2 separate regions of the Homo sapiens genome follow, and region 1 is reported to be linked to region 2. Evidence: microRNA targets listed by miRTarBase, many of them from high-throughput screens and not tested one by one. Region 2 holds a microRNA gene; the other region holds the end of a gene's coding sequence.
The links. The annotated mature microRNA hsa-miR-6771-3p reads CAAACCCCUGUCUACCCGCAG and lies in region 2 at 2,008-2,028, shown strand. An mRNA with a match to its seed (bases 2 to 7 or 8) in the 3' UTR can be bound and repressed. Matches are read on the target gene's strand: a 7mer-m8 pairs with bases 2 to 8, a 7mer-A1 pairs with bases 2 to 7 and ends in A, and an 8mer does both.

Region 1: miRTarBase lists VPS8 as a target of hsa-miR-6771-3p. The part of its 3' UTR that is shown has no 7-base or 8-base seed match.

Annotation. Positions count from the first base shown.
Region 1 is chr3:185,051,430-185,058,532 of GRCh38, reverse strand. It overlaps VPS8 (VPS8 subunit of CORVET complex), which reads right to left. Exons shown (of 48, transcript NM_001009921.3): 48 at 5,929-6,657. The coding sequence ends at 6,508. Among named protein-coding and RNA genes, the nearest start is that of C3orf70, 98 kb to the left of the region's middle.
Region 2 is chr16:50,290,648-50,297,765 of GRCh38, forward strand. It overlaps MIR6771 (microRNA 6771), which reads left to right and starts at 1,969; the gene lies at 1,969-2,028. It overlaps ADCY7 (adenylate cyclase 7), which reads left to right. Exons shown (of 26, transcript NM_001114.5): 3 at 1-13; 4 at 1,089-1,250; 5 at 2,029-2,178; 6 at 2,707-2,855; 7 at 3,993-4,104.

The DNA.
Region 1 (7,103 bases), not on the chromosome of region 2:
GCGTGAGCCACCACGCCTTGCCTATATATTCTGGATATAGATATTCAACTCCTGTTGGATGAACAGTTGGCAAATATTTTCTTCCATTCTGTAGGCTGTCTTTTCACTCTGTTGATTATTTCCTTTGCTGTGCAGAAGCTTTTTAGTTTGAAATAATCCTATTTATTTTTGCTTTTATTGCCTGTGCTTTTGAGGACTTAGTCATAAAATCTGTTCTCAGATCAATGTCCTGAAGTGTTTCTCCTATGTTTTCTTCCAGTAGCTTTATAGTTTTGGATCTTACATTTAGGTCTTTGATCCATTTTGAGTTGATTTTTGTATAGAGTGAGAGGTGGGGTCTAGTTTCTTTCTTCTACCTATGACTATCCAGTTTTCTCAGCATCATTTACTGAAGAGGGTGTCCTTTTCCCAATAAGTGTATGTGGTGTCTTTGTCAAAAATCAGTTGGCTTTGTCAAAAATCACATACATGGATTGATTTCTAGGTTCTCTATTCTGTCTATGTATATTCTTATGCTGGTGCCATGCTGTTTGGTTACTATAACTTTGTAGTATATTCTGAAGTCTGGTAGTGTGAGCCTCCAACTTTGTTCTTTTTGCTTAGAATTGCTTTGGCTGTTCAGGGTCTTTTGTGTCCCATACACATATTAAGATTTTTTTTTCTATTTCAATGACGAATGACATTGGTATTTTGATAGGGCCTGCATTGAATCTGTACATTGCTTTGGGTAATATGGACATTTTAGAAATGTTAATTCTTCCAGTCTATGATCATGAGATGTCTGTTTGTGTCTTCTCCAACTTCTTTTCTCTTTCTTTCTTTTTCCCAATACAAGGTCTGGTTCTATTATGCAGGCTGGAGTGCAGTGGTGCCATCTCAGCTCACTGCAATCTCCACCTCCTGGGCTTAAGCCATCCTCCCACCTCTGCCTCCCTTTTAGCTGGGAAAACAGGGGTGTGCCACCATACCTGGCTAATTTTTGTATTTTTGGCAGAGATGAGGTTTCACCATTTGCCCAGGCTGGTCTGAAACTTGTGAGCTCAAGTGATCCTCCCACCTTGGCCTCCCAAAGTGCTGGGATTACAGACAAGAGCCACTGCACCTGACCTCCAATTTCTTTAATCAGTGTTTTCTAGTTTTCGTTGTACAGACCCGTCACCTCCTTGGTTAAATTTATTCCTAGATTGTTTTTATTTTTTGTAGCTGTTGTAAATGGGATTGTCTTGATTTATTTTTCAGCTAGTTTGTTATTGGTTATTCAGCTAGTGTTATTAGAGAAACACTACTGATTTTTGCATGTTGATTTTGTATCCTGCAACTTTACTGAATTCATTTATCAGTTCTATGAGTTTTTTGATAAGAGTCTTTAGGTTTTTCTAAGATCATGTTGTCTGCAAAGAGTGACAATTTGACTTCCTTTTTTCTCTTGCCTGACTGCTCTGGCTAGGACTTCCATACTATGTTGAATAAGAGTAGTAAGAGTAGGCATCCCTGTCTTGTTCCATTTCTTGGAGGAAAACCTTTCAGTCTTTCCTCGTTCAGTATGATGTTAGCTGTGAGTCTGCCATACACGTCCTTAATTGTGTTGAGGTACTTTCTTTCTATACCTAACTTATTGAGAGTTTTTTTTTTTTATCATGAAAGGATATTGAATTTTATCAAATGATTTTTCTGCAGGTATTGAGATGATCATATAGTTTTTGTCTTTCATGCTATTGATGTCATGTATCATGTATATTGATTGGCATATGTTGAGCCATCCTTGTATTCTTGTGATACATCCCACTTGATCATGGTGTATTATCTTTATAATCTTTTTGATGTATTGTTGGATTTAGTTAACTAGTTTTTTGTTTTGTTTTGTTTTGTTTTTTGAGACAGTCTTACTCTGTCACCCAGGCTGGAGTGCAGTGGCACAGTCTTGGCTCACTGTAACTTCCACTTCCCGGGTTCAAGCGATTCTCCTGCTTCAGCCTCCCAAGTAGCTGGGACTACAGGCATGCACCACCATGCCCAGCTAATTTTTGTACTTTTAGTAGAGACAGGGTTTCACCACATTGGCCAGGCTGGTCTTTATCTCCTGACCTCAGGCAATCCACCTGCATTGGCCTCCCAAAGTGCTGGGATTACAGGCATGAGCCACCATGCCCAGCTTACTTACCTAGTATTTTGTTGAGGATTTTTGCAGCTATGTTCATAAGGGATATTGGCCTATAATTTTCTTCTTTGTATAGTGTCCTTGCTGTTTTTGGTGTCAGGGTTAGGCTGGCTTTGTAAAATGAGTTAGGAAGAGTTCCCTCTACTTCAATTTTTTGGAATAGTTTGAGAAGAATTGGTACTAATTATTTTATAAATGGTACGTAGAACTCCGTGGAGAAGCCATTTGGTTCTGGACTTCCCTTTGTTGGGAGACTTTTAAATTACTGATACAATCTAATTATTTGTTATTGTTCTGTTTGGGTTTTCTATTTCTTCATGATTTAGTCTTGGTAGGTGGTATATGTGTCTTGGAATTTATCTATTTTACCTAGGCTATCCAATTTGTTCGTGTATGTGCTTGTCCACAGTCGTCTCTTATGATCCTTTTTACAGTTGTAATGTCTTATCTTTCATTTCTGATTTTGAGTCTTCTTCTTTTCTTAGTCTAGTTAGAGGTTTATTGATTTTGTTTATCCTTCCAAAAAACCAACTTTTGGCCAGGCACAGTGGTTCATACCTGTAATCTCAACACTTTGGGAGGCTGAGGTGGGAGGATTGCTTGAGCCAGGAGTTTTTTGAGACCAGCCTGGGCAACATAGTGAGACTCTGCCTCTACCAAACAAACAAACAAAAAACAGTAGCTGGGCATGGTGGCGTGCCCCTGTAGTTCTAGCTACTCGGGAGGCTGAGGGAGGATCACTTGAGCCCAGAAGGGTGAGGCTGCAGTGAGCAGTGATTGTGCCACTGCACTCCAGCCTGGGTGACAAAGCAAGAGCCTGTCTCAGACAAACAAAACCCTCTTAATTTCATTGATTTTTTAAAATTATTTTTCTAGTGCTAGTCTCTATTTCATTTATTTCTGCTTTGATCTTTATTATTTTCTTCCTCTTACTAACTCTAGGCTTAGTCTGTTCTTTTTATAGTTCTTTAGGTTGTTATGCCAATAGGTTATTTGGAGTTTTTCTTCTTTCTTGATGTAGGACTTCATTGCTATACACTTTCCTCTTAAAACTGCTTTTGCCACATACCATAAATGATATTTTTATGGGATATTTCCATCTTCATTTGTCTCCAGATATTTAAAAATTTTTGTATTTCTTCTTTGACCCATGTTCTTTAGGAACATGTTGTTTAATTTCCACAGATTTGTGAATTCCTTAAAATTCCTATTACTGATTTCTAGTTTCATACTATTGTGGTCAGAAAAGATACTGTTATGATTTTCAATCTTAAATTTGTTAAGACTTGTTTTGTGGCTTAAATATGGTCTATCCAGGAGAATGTTCAATGTGCACTTGAGAAAAACGTGTATTCTCATGCTGTTGAATGGAATGTTCTGTGTATGTTTGTTAGGTCCATTTGGTCTAATGTGTAATTCAAATCCAGTGTTTCTCTATTGATTCTCTGTCTGGAAAATCATTGTTGAAGTCCCCTATTATTGTATTTCAGTTTATTTCTCTCTTCAGCTCTATTAATATTTGCTTTATAGACTTGGGTGCTCTGATGTTGGGTGCATATATATTTACAACTGTTTTATGTTCTAGATGAATCCACCCCTTTATTATTATATAACTTTGTCTCACTTGACACTTTTTGACTTAAAGTCTATTTTATTGAAGTACAGGTACTCCTGCTCTCTTTTGGTTTCCTTTGCACAGAATATCTTTTTCCATCTTTCATTTTCAAGCTACGTGTGTCCTTAAAGGTGAAGTGAGTCTCTTTTAGGCAGCATATAGTTAGATCTTATTTTTAATCCAATCAGCCACTCTGTCTTTTGATTGGCAAATCTGATCTATTCACATTCAAGGTAATTATTGATAGGTAAGGACCTACCACTGCAATTTTGTTCATTGTTTTGTAGATCCTTTGTTCCTTTCCTCCTCTCTTGCTTTCTTTCTGATTAGATGATTTTCTCTAGTGGTATACTTTTTATTCCTTGCTTTTTATCTACCTACTATAATTTCTTGCTTTGTGGTTACCATCAGGCTTACATAAATCATCTTACTTATTTTTTTGAAATGGAGTCTCGCTCTGTACCCCAGGCTGGAGTGCAGTGGCACCATCTCGGCTCACTGCAGCCTCCACCTCCCAGGTCCCAGTTCAAGCGATGCTCCTGCCACAGTCTCCCAAGTAGCTGGGATTACAGGCACGCACCACCATTCCCAGCTAATTTTTGTATTTTTAGTAGAGACAGGGTTTCACCATGTTGGCCAGGCTGGTCTTGAACTCCTGACCTCATGATCTGCCTGCCTCGGCCTCCCAAAGTGCTGAGATTACAAGCGTGAGCCACTGTGCCCGGCCAACATCTTAGTTATAACAGGCTATTTTAAACTTATTACAACTTTATTTTGATTGCATAAAGTTCTGCTTTTACTTCACCCTTCCCACATACATTTCATGTTTTTGATGTCACAATTTGCTTTTTTATATTGAATACTCCTTTGCCTTAGTTCTTTACACTATAAAAGAAGAAAAGGAATAATTGAGTTTTGCTTTGAGAACATCAAGTTCCTTTGGCCTTATTTTAGGCTCAATGAGAAACCTTTTGATACATAACTTGGGGCAGGTAGCATCACTGGCTCTGGAATCACAACTCTGAATTCCACCTGCTCTGCTACCTCTTTGGTAGGTTACCTTGGTGAAATTACTTATCACCTCTGAGCCTCAGCTTTCTCATCTGTCAGCTGGGGTTGAGACTGTCATATAGCTGCGGCAGGCATCCAAGCAATGATGACTTAATGGTTCAACCACTTCCCTCAATTTTATCTCCTGACACCTTCATCAGGAAGCAGTACCCTTGTAGCCCAGGTCTTGGGAGAAGTTATATAATAAAAGCTAAGCTAGCATTTCTGGGGTATTTGCCATGTGCCTCAATGGCACATAGCAAATGTTTACATGTATTATTTCCTCTTCATAACAGTTCTGTTTATAAAGAAACAGAGGCTTAGAGAGGTTAACTGATTTGTTGATTATACGTAGTACATGGCAGAAACAAGATCTATTTTCTATTTAAGAGTTAAAAATTTCTATTGGCCAGGTGTGGTGGCTCATGCCTGTAATCCCAGCACTTTAGGAGGCCAAGGCAGGCGGATCACCTGAGATCAGGAATTCGAGACCAGCCTGGCCAACATGGTGAAACCCCATCTCTACCAAAAATTAAAAAATTAGCCGGGCGTGGTGGTGGGTGCCGGTAATCCCAGCTACTCGGGAAGCTGAGGCAAGAGAATCACTTGAACCTGGGAGACGGAGCTTGCAGTGAGCCAAGACAGCACCACTGCACTCCAGCCTGAGCAGCAAGAGTGAAACTCTGTCTCAAAAAAAAAAAAATTTCTACCTAGTTTATGTATCTATTTCCTGTGGGTTTGGTTAGTATCAGTCCATGAGAGCCTGACGATTCCATTGCACTGAGAAAAGGATCATCTGAGTATGTAAGGTGGAAACCTAGGTGTCTGGGTGTGGCGACCTCCTGTGGCAGTTGGTTCAATGATATACGAAGTCCCATGGCCAAAAACTGAGTACTATTCTCTTTGGCAGCCCAGCGCCTGTCACGGGAGCATATGGGTGGCTGGGCTGCTCTGAATACAGCTGACAATGGAGCTGCTTATCTGAATTAAGGAGGGTTGTCACAGGCAGGATTCCTGACTTTGAGCTAATAAAATTGTGACAACAGGGCTCGAAATGTCCTCCATGACTTGACAGACTGAGAGCCAGCCAGCCAGGAGACCTGCAGAACTTAAACACGGAGCATTTATTGTTAGAAAGGGCAAGTCTTACACTCAAATAGGTTTTAACATGAACACATTAAAGGGAGATGGCCCTGGCCCCCACAGTGTCTGCTCTCTCCAAGGCATGCTTCAGTTATACTGCAGCCTGGCCAACCACTGTTCCCTGTAGAAGTTGAAGTTCCTCTGTATTATCCAGCAGCTGGAGGAGACGGAGTATGGCAGACTCTGGAATGCCATTTGTGTGAGTTCCACCTACTTTCTAGGCTTCAGGGTAAATGGAAAAAGTCGCAATAGGCGAAATGTATTTCCTAAAAAGCTGGACAGAGGTATGTGACATTCCTTTGCTTAACAAGCAAAACAAAATCAATGAGTCTGGTGAACTGACGCCATGACAGCAATGTGGAGAAGACTGGGAGTCTACACTGGGAATGGTGCTGTGGACGCTCTGGGCACAGAAGCCCAATTTGGAACCTCTTCTCAGAAGCGTGGGAGGTGGTGGAGGCCAAGCCCACCAGAGGCGGGGCCTCTCCCCAGCTGCCTCGGGATCATCTCTGGTTCTCCTGGGCCAGGCTCCATGGAGTCATCAATCCTCAGTCACAGGTGGAGGAATGAGCTGCAGCTGGAAGTTCTCATTCTGGAAGATGCTGTTGAAAGCAGGAGCACTCTGCGAGCCACTGAATGGCCTATAGCTCTCGCTGCTGCGATTCTGGGAGAGTTCCGTGAGGAGAGCCAGCTGCAAAGGAAGGACACACATCAGCTAAGGTTTGTGGGGAGCAGAGGGAAGAGAGGCTCCTGAATCCACTGCTTCAGATACATGAGAGACAGTGCTGTGTTGCAGGAGTAGTAACATGCAGGGTTTGAATCTTAGGTCCATATATCACAAACGAGCAGTGTGACTTTGGGCAAGTTCACTTCATTTTTTAGGGTCTAAATTTCCTCATTCAATAATGAGACTGGACTGGTTTGCTCCCAAGGGCACTCAAACTGTGCTCTCTCTGGCACTGGAGAGCTCTCCCACCCTGGGCTGGCCCTGTGCTGAGGGCTCCTCCAGCTGCTGTGGATGGCCCTGCTGCCACCCTTCTCTCCCTGTGGACGCGCCCTGGGCTGAGGAGCTCTGTTCTCAGCTCTGCTTGTTCCAACCTCTCCATCTTGGTGCACTCTCCTCGGGGTGAATGACTA
Region 2 (7,118 bases):
TGCGTGGGAGCAGGTAACAGGAACTCTGGACTCCCTGCCAGCTGCGCCTTCAGCAGCTCCCATCCCCGTGGTTGGTGGGCATGCCACAGGCCCTTCGTGCCCCACGCTTGGCTGTGTGTCTAGGATGGCCCCAGGCTGGTTTTGTCCCTGTGAGTTCTCTGCATTGACAGGGCTGAGGTGGGGAGAGCATCCACTCGGACGCTGGGCTGCAGCACTTTTGGGTGGCTCCAGTTTGGTTGGAGATGACAGAACTTCAGCTCAAAGAGGCAAAAAGGCACAAACTGGTTCCTGTGTCAGGAAAGGCCAAGGGGTCAGTGCTGGGCTCCAGTGGGTAACTGGAACTGGGGCCTCTGGACAGCTTCGGCCCCGGGCACGCTGTCCCCAGGTGGGGGCAGAGAAGTTCACAGCGGCTCCAGGCTGCCCACCCCAGTTGAGAGAGAGGGCCCTTTCTCAACCAGCTCGACCTGCAGGCTTGAGCCACACTGGCCTGGCTGTGGTCATGGGCCCAGTCCCAGAGAGGCTGTCACCAAGCGGTAGCACACTCTGACCAGTGGGCCTGGGTCCTATGACAGCTCCTGTGGCTGGGGCAGGGTGGGGTGAGGCCCAAGGAAACCATGTGGACTGAAGGGGAGGGAGAGGGCAGCACTCCCAGAGGGGTGGACGCAGGACCAGCCGGTGGGGATGGTGGGGCAGCTCTGGGGGTGGAGGGAGGGCGGGTGGGGCCGCATTGCTGGAGGCAGCTGGTGAGAGGGTGCCTCAGCCTCCCGGTAATCATTTCTGCTGAGCGAGAACCACGTGGCAGGGGCACCAGGTGGGGGCTCCCTGGATCACGCGGGGCATGGAGCCTCCCACCTAGGGTGGCCACAGGCAGTGGATCAGCACAGGAAACCATGAACCTTGTGGCCGGGCCCACCCTAGAAACACATTATGGCTTTTCTTGTTCCCTTGTATGTCTGCCCACGCAGGGGGTGGCGAGGGAGCCAACCTAAGGATACGCACTGGGTGGGCTGCTGTGGTGCAGGGTTCCGGGGGCTGTACGGCCTGGGGCAGCATCTTGGGGCACCGGGCTCACCAGGCTGCATCCACAGGTGCCCTTCTTCCTGTTCATTGTCTTCGTGGTGTACACACTACTGCCCTTCAGCATGCGGGGCGCTGTCGCCGTTGGGGCCGTCTCCACTGCCTCCCACCTCCTGGTGCTCGGTTCTTTGATGGGAGGCTTCACGACACCCAGTGTCCGGGTGGGGCTGCAGGTGAGGGATGGGCTAAGGCCTCTGGGGGAGGTTTTGTGGTCTGGGTCTAAGGGCAGATGGGGGGGCCCCCTCTGGGTGAATCAGACCCGAAGGCCCCGGAGCCGTGTTTGCAGACAGCCCGCTCCAAGGCCGGGCCCTCTCCACGTCTGCTCGGAAGCTGGGCTCCAGGCGTGGCCCTGCCCTCTGGCCTTTGCTTTGCTGGCCTAGGGCTCCCCTGTGGCTCAGCCCTCAGGGTCGTGACCTCAGGCCTTGCCTCCCGGTTCAGGGACACTGTCGTGGGGTGAGTCCCATTGCCGAAGTTTCCCCTCGAAGGCCCTGTCCTGGCGGGGCTTGGGGGAGTACCCCAGGGCACTGCCTTGTGTCTTTGTGTTGAATGAGTGAATCTTCTGTTCATAATTATTGGGTGTTTAGAGAAGTGTTTTCCCTCTGACCAGGCCTGGTGTCCTCTCCAGGCAGAGGCTGGCCCTCCACACAGCCAGCTGGGCGCTGTGCCCTCTGGGACTGCCCTTAGCACGCATGCCCCTCGGGCCCTGGGCTCTGTGAGGTGGTCTCTTCTGCCTCCCTGGGTGTCCTGGTCTTGCAGTCCTAGTGACTCACTAGGAGACTAGCTCCTGTCTGGGCCTCAGTTTCCCTGTCTGCCCCAGGAAGAGTGCCATTCTCAGTGGGTTGAAGGTCAGGGAATGGGAAGAGGTGCCATCACTAGTCCGCCTAGGGGTCTGGTGCCTCGGGAGGGCATGGGCCAGGCCACATAATGAGCCAAACCCCTGTCTACCCGCAGCTGCTGGCCAACGCAGTCATCTTCCTGTGTGGGAACCTGACAGGCGCCTTCCACAAGCACCAAATGCAGGATGCATCCCGGGACCTCTTCACCTACACTGTGAAGTGCATCCAGATCCGCCGGAAGCTGCGCATCGAGAAGCGCCAGCAGGTGGGACCCGGCCCCCACTCCTCACCCTGTACACCCCTGTCCTCTTCCTCTTTCTGTTGGACATGAGACACTCATGCTGCCATGTGCATGAGGTGCATGGCCAGACACCCATGCAGGTCTCACCTCGGTGAGTCCTGGGCTCCAGCAGGGTAACCATAGCCTGCTGACCCTTGACTCTGCCTTCCTCTGTGTGGTTTCAGTCCTGGGCACGCAGTCCCCAGGTGGCGGCAGAGAAGGCCGTAGTGGCTCCAGGCTGCTCACCCATCAGCTTAGCCTCCCCAGCTGAAAGAGCCCTTTCTCAGTCACCCTGAGTCCCGGGGGCTGCTGGGTACATGGGAGGTAGATGCTCAGTTGGGTTGGTGGAGGACAAGAGCAGAGATGGGGACATTGTGGGCAGGGCAGGCAGGCAGGGAGGATGGGGGCCAAGGAGGCCAGGTCTGGGACCTGATGCTACCCTGCCTGTCCCCCGCTGGTCCCTCCGCCGGTCGCTTTGCTGGTCCCTCTGCTGGTCTGCCCACCCACACCCAGGAGAACCTGCTGCTGTCAGTGCTTCCGGCCCACATCTCCATGGGCATGAAGCTGGCCATCATCGAACGGCTCAAGGAGCATGGTGACCGTCGCTGCATGCCTGACAACAACTTCCACAGCCTCTACGTCAAGAGGCACCAGAATGTCAGGTGGGCGGTGAGACGTGTGATTAGCATATCCCGGGGACTGGGCCCACCGTTCCACCGGCCCCCAGGCGGCCTCCCCGCCCTATCTGGAGGCTCAGACCCCTGCCCATATAGGGATTGGGAGAGGGCCCCATGGTTCCAGGTCAATCTGGGGCCCTCCCTGGGTCTCAGAACCCCCACTTGTGGGCAGGATCAGATCAGGGCTCTTAAATTAGAGAATTTAGATTGGTATTGAAAGATCTAGCACACCCCCAAAACTGTAAAACTGTGTGAGCAAACATAGCTTTTGTGAAGGAAGGGGTCCTTTCAGATGGTTCTCAAGGGAGCACAGGACCCCCAGAATGAGGTAAAGCCCCCCGGCCTTGGTGCCCAAGAGTGCCCCGGTTCTGACACCTGTCTTTGGCTGATTTGCAGGGAACCACAAAATTTTACTTGAATGCACTGACCTGAGTTTGTCAAGTGTCGATGTGGGTGCTGGGTGCCGTTGAGTGTAGATGTGGGTCCCAGGAGACCCCCTGGGTCCTCTGCCTGCAGCGCCAGCATTACATCCAAGGCTGGCCCGCTGCCTTTTCTCTGGGCTGTGGATGGTCCATGAGCTTAAGGACTTTGGAGCAGGGAGAACTGGTGCAGATGCCAGCTCTTGGCTTCCCAGCAAGTCTCAATGTCCTGGAGCCTCAGTTTGTGCATCTGTAGAACGGGAGTTCGGCAAGGGCTGTGTGAGGACTCGATGCCTGTAAAGTGCTGGGTGTGGAGGTTGGCTTGAGGGAGCATGGAGCTGCCTCTCACCAGGGAGTTCTGAAGTCTGTGCTGTGGTGAACATTGGATGGGAAAGGGGAAGGCTCCGGGCTGCCTGCAGGAGTGCCCTTCGGCTGTCTGCAGTGATAGGGCCTGGGGTGGGGCCGAGGGCTCCTGTAGGCTCTGAATTTTGCTCCCTTCTGCTTTAACGTGAAGCCCCTGGAACTTTAATCTGTCTCTATGGCTGGGCGCGACTCTCCCATCCCTATGGAGGCTGAGGAAGGACGGGGGTGAATGGGCTCAGGCCTGGCAGGCTCCTGGGGCTCCAGACAGTCCTGCGTGCTCCTGCTGCTGCTGTCTAGGAGCCTGGCTCTGACACTCCCTCCCACCCTGCCCCATCCCCAGCATCCTCTATGCGGACATCGTGGGCTTCACGCAGCTGGCCAGCGACTGTTCTCCCAAGGAGCTGGTGGTGGTGCTGAATGAGCTCTTTGGCAAGTTCGACCAGATCGCCAAGGTGAGCCCGCTGGCCTACAATGGGCAAAGCCAGGCCCCTCCCCTGCCTATTACACCCCAGGGGTGTCCTGTGTTCAGTGCCCTGCTGGAATTGGGATGGGGAGGCGTGGCTGAATTTTAGCATCCAGCCAGCAAACACAAGCGCCCCATGGTAAAGGTGGGGGTGAGTGGTGGCCACGGCAGCCAGGATCCTGTGCCCCCAGAGTGACAGGCCAGTGGGGAGACTGACAGTGCACACTGGGCGATATACTGGGGCTCTGGAGCTCAGATGGGGGCTCAGGAGGAGGAGATGGCTCCATCCTCACTGGCAAGGCTAGCAGCCTCCACTCACCTGGTAGCTCAGGAGGACTGTGGAATGCCCAGCCTCACCCAGAAGCTGCTTTTCACAGGATCTGAGGTGAATCATGTGCACATTAAACTTTTACGTTTTGTTTGTTTGTTTTTGTGAGATGGAGTCTCATTCTGTCATGAAGGCTGGAGTGCAGTGGTGCCATCACTGCTCACTGCAGCCTCGACCTGCCAGGCTCAAGTGATTCTCATGCCTCAGCCTCCTGAGTAGCTGGGACTACAGGCATGCACCACCACGCCTGGCTAATTTTTTTTTTTTTTTTTTTTTTTTTTTTTTGTAGCAATGGGGTTTCGCCATGTAGGCCAGGCTGGTCTCGAACTCCTGACCTCAAGTGATCATCCCCTCTTGGCCTCCCAAGTGCTGGGATTACAGCCGTGGGCCACCACTCCTGGCCCACCTTAAAGTCTGAGATACTTGAAAAAATATCTGAGGAGGAAAGGGAACAGTGTTCTTAGCAGGGGGAACAGCATAGACAAAGCCTGGAGTAGAAAGAAAGCCCCGTGTGTCCATGGGGTGAACGTGCTCAGTGTGCGTGTGAGGTGTGAGGGGGACAAGGGCACAAGGTCTGACATGCAAGGACATGAGGGCTGAGGCGAGGACCAGGATGCTGAGGAGCTCGACACGTGCCAGGCAGGGAGGGGGTAAGGCAAGCAACATTTCCATTAATGGACCAAATGGTCCTGAGAGAGGGTAAGTGCCAGGCCCTGAGTCTGGGTGGGGCCTTGGGCCTACATGGTATGTGCTTTGAAGAAGAGAAGTGTGGGGGCCAGGAAGCCTGGGGAGCACCTAGCCCAGCCTCAGGTGATCAGGGCAGGCTTCCTGGAAGTGGTGGCCATTAAATAGAGACTGAAGTGTAAGATTTAAGGTGGTGGCTCCCTATCCTGGCTGTACATGCAAATCACATGGAAAGCTTAAATAAAACACCAGTGCCCATGTCCACACCCATCAGAGTTCTGTTTTGTTTTGTTTTTGAGACAGAGTCTTGCTCTGTCACCTAGCGTGAAGTGCAATGGCATAATCATGGCTCACAGCAGCCTCAACCTGCCTGGGCTCAGGCGTCCTCCCACTTCAGCCTCCCGAGCAGCTGTGACTACAGGTGTGCACCACAACCCCAGGCTAATTTTTTTGTATTTTGTGGAGATGGGGTTTTGCTACATTGTCTAGGCTGGTCTTGAATTCCTACGCTCAAGTGATCCACCCACCTCAGCCTCCCAAAGTGCTAGGATTACAGGCATGCACCATCATGCCCTGCCCCATCAGAATTTTTTTTTTTTTTTTGAGACGGAGTCTTGCTCTGTTGCCCAGGCTGGAGTGCAGTGGTGTGATCTCTGCTCACTGCAAGCTCCGCCTCCCGGGTTCACACCATTCTGCCTCACCCTCCTGAGTAGCTGGGACTACAGGCGCCTGCCACCACGCCTGGCTAATTTTTTGTATTTTTAGTAGAGACGGGGTTTCACCATGTTAGCCAGGATGGTCTTGATTTCCTGACCTTGTGATCCGCCTGCCTCGACCTCTCAAAGTGCTGGGATTACAGGTGTGAGCCACTGCGCCTGGCCAGAATTTGTAAGAGCCCCGCAGGTGTCTCTGTGGGCAGAGAATCAATGGTCTAGAACTTGATGGGAGGCAAGTTATGACTTCACACTGGGAAGAATTTTTCATGATCAGAGCTACTCAATCCCAGGAGGGACTGGAAGTGGGCTCCCTGTTGCAGGGGGTAACCAAGCTTCTACAGGATTGCACTGGTCAGGGATGCTCTGGAAAACTGTCCCATCCTGGGGATTGTGGACTGAGTGACTCAGAGGGCCTGTCTAGCCTGGAACCTTCCTTCAGGATCTGCATGGCTTCTGAACCAGCAGCTGGGAGCCCCAGAGGTTGGGCCTCATGTGAGGCAGGGGCCCTGGGCTCGGGCCACAGCTGGCCCTTTCCTTACCATAAAGCCCACACAGAGGGTCCCTTGCCCTTGGACACAGTCTTCCCTCTCCAGCAGGCCCAGGAGGCGTGGCCCTATTGCACAGATGGGGAAAGGGAGGCCATGGCAGGTGCCAGCTTCCCAGTCAGAGCATCTAATCTCTGGGCAGAGTTGGGCAGGGCTGGTCCCAGCCTTTTCTCCTATCAACAATCAGATTCCAGAAGTGTAAGCTCTTTCCAAGAGCCAGGGCCTCCTCTCTCAGAGGCATACAAGTCACACCTCCGCACAAGACCCAGCTCCCCAACTCCAAGTGTCAGAGACACAGGGGACTGTCAGCCGGTGGAGCAGCCGGGGGAATGTGGCCTCTCCTACATCCCCGAGAGCTGGGCTGGGTCCATGGGCAGTCCTGTGCCTGGTCCGAGAGGAGATCAGGGTAGCTGGAGCCTAGTATCCAGGTCTGCCAAGATTGCCTGCTTTCTAGGAAAGCCACTGTCCTCTTGTCCTTGCAGTCACTCAGAACTCACTCAGCATGTGCCAGATGGGGCCCAGCAGGAAACATCTGGCACACGCTGAAACTGAGTAATTGGCGGAGGGCACAGGCCAGGGATGGTTCCCAGGCTGGGCAGGTGCAGGGGACCTGGAGGCAGGGCTGGTGCTGTGTCTGGGGCCTGGGTCTGTGATGGCTGATGGGCACAGAGTAGGGACGAGGACAGGATAGGCTCGAGTCCTGGAGACAGATGGTGTTCCAGGAGCAGGC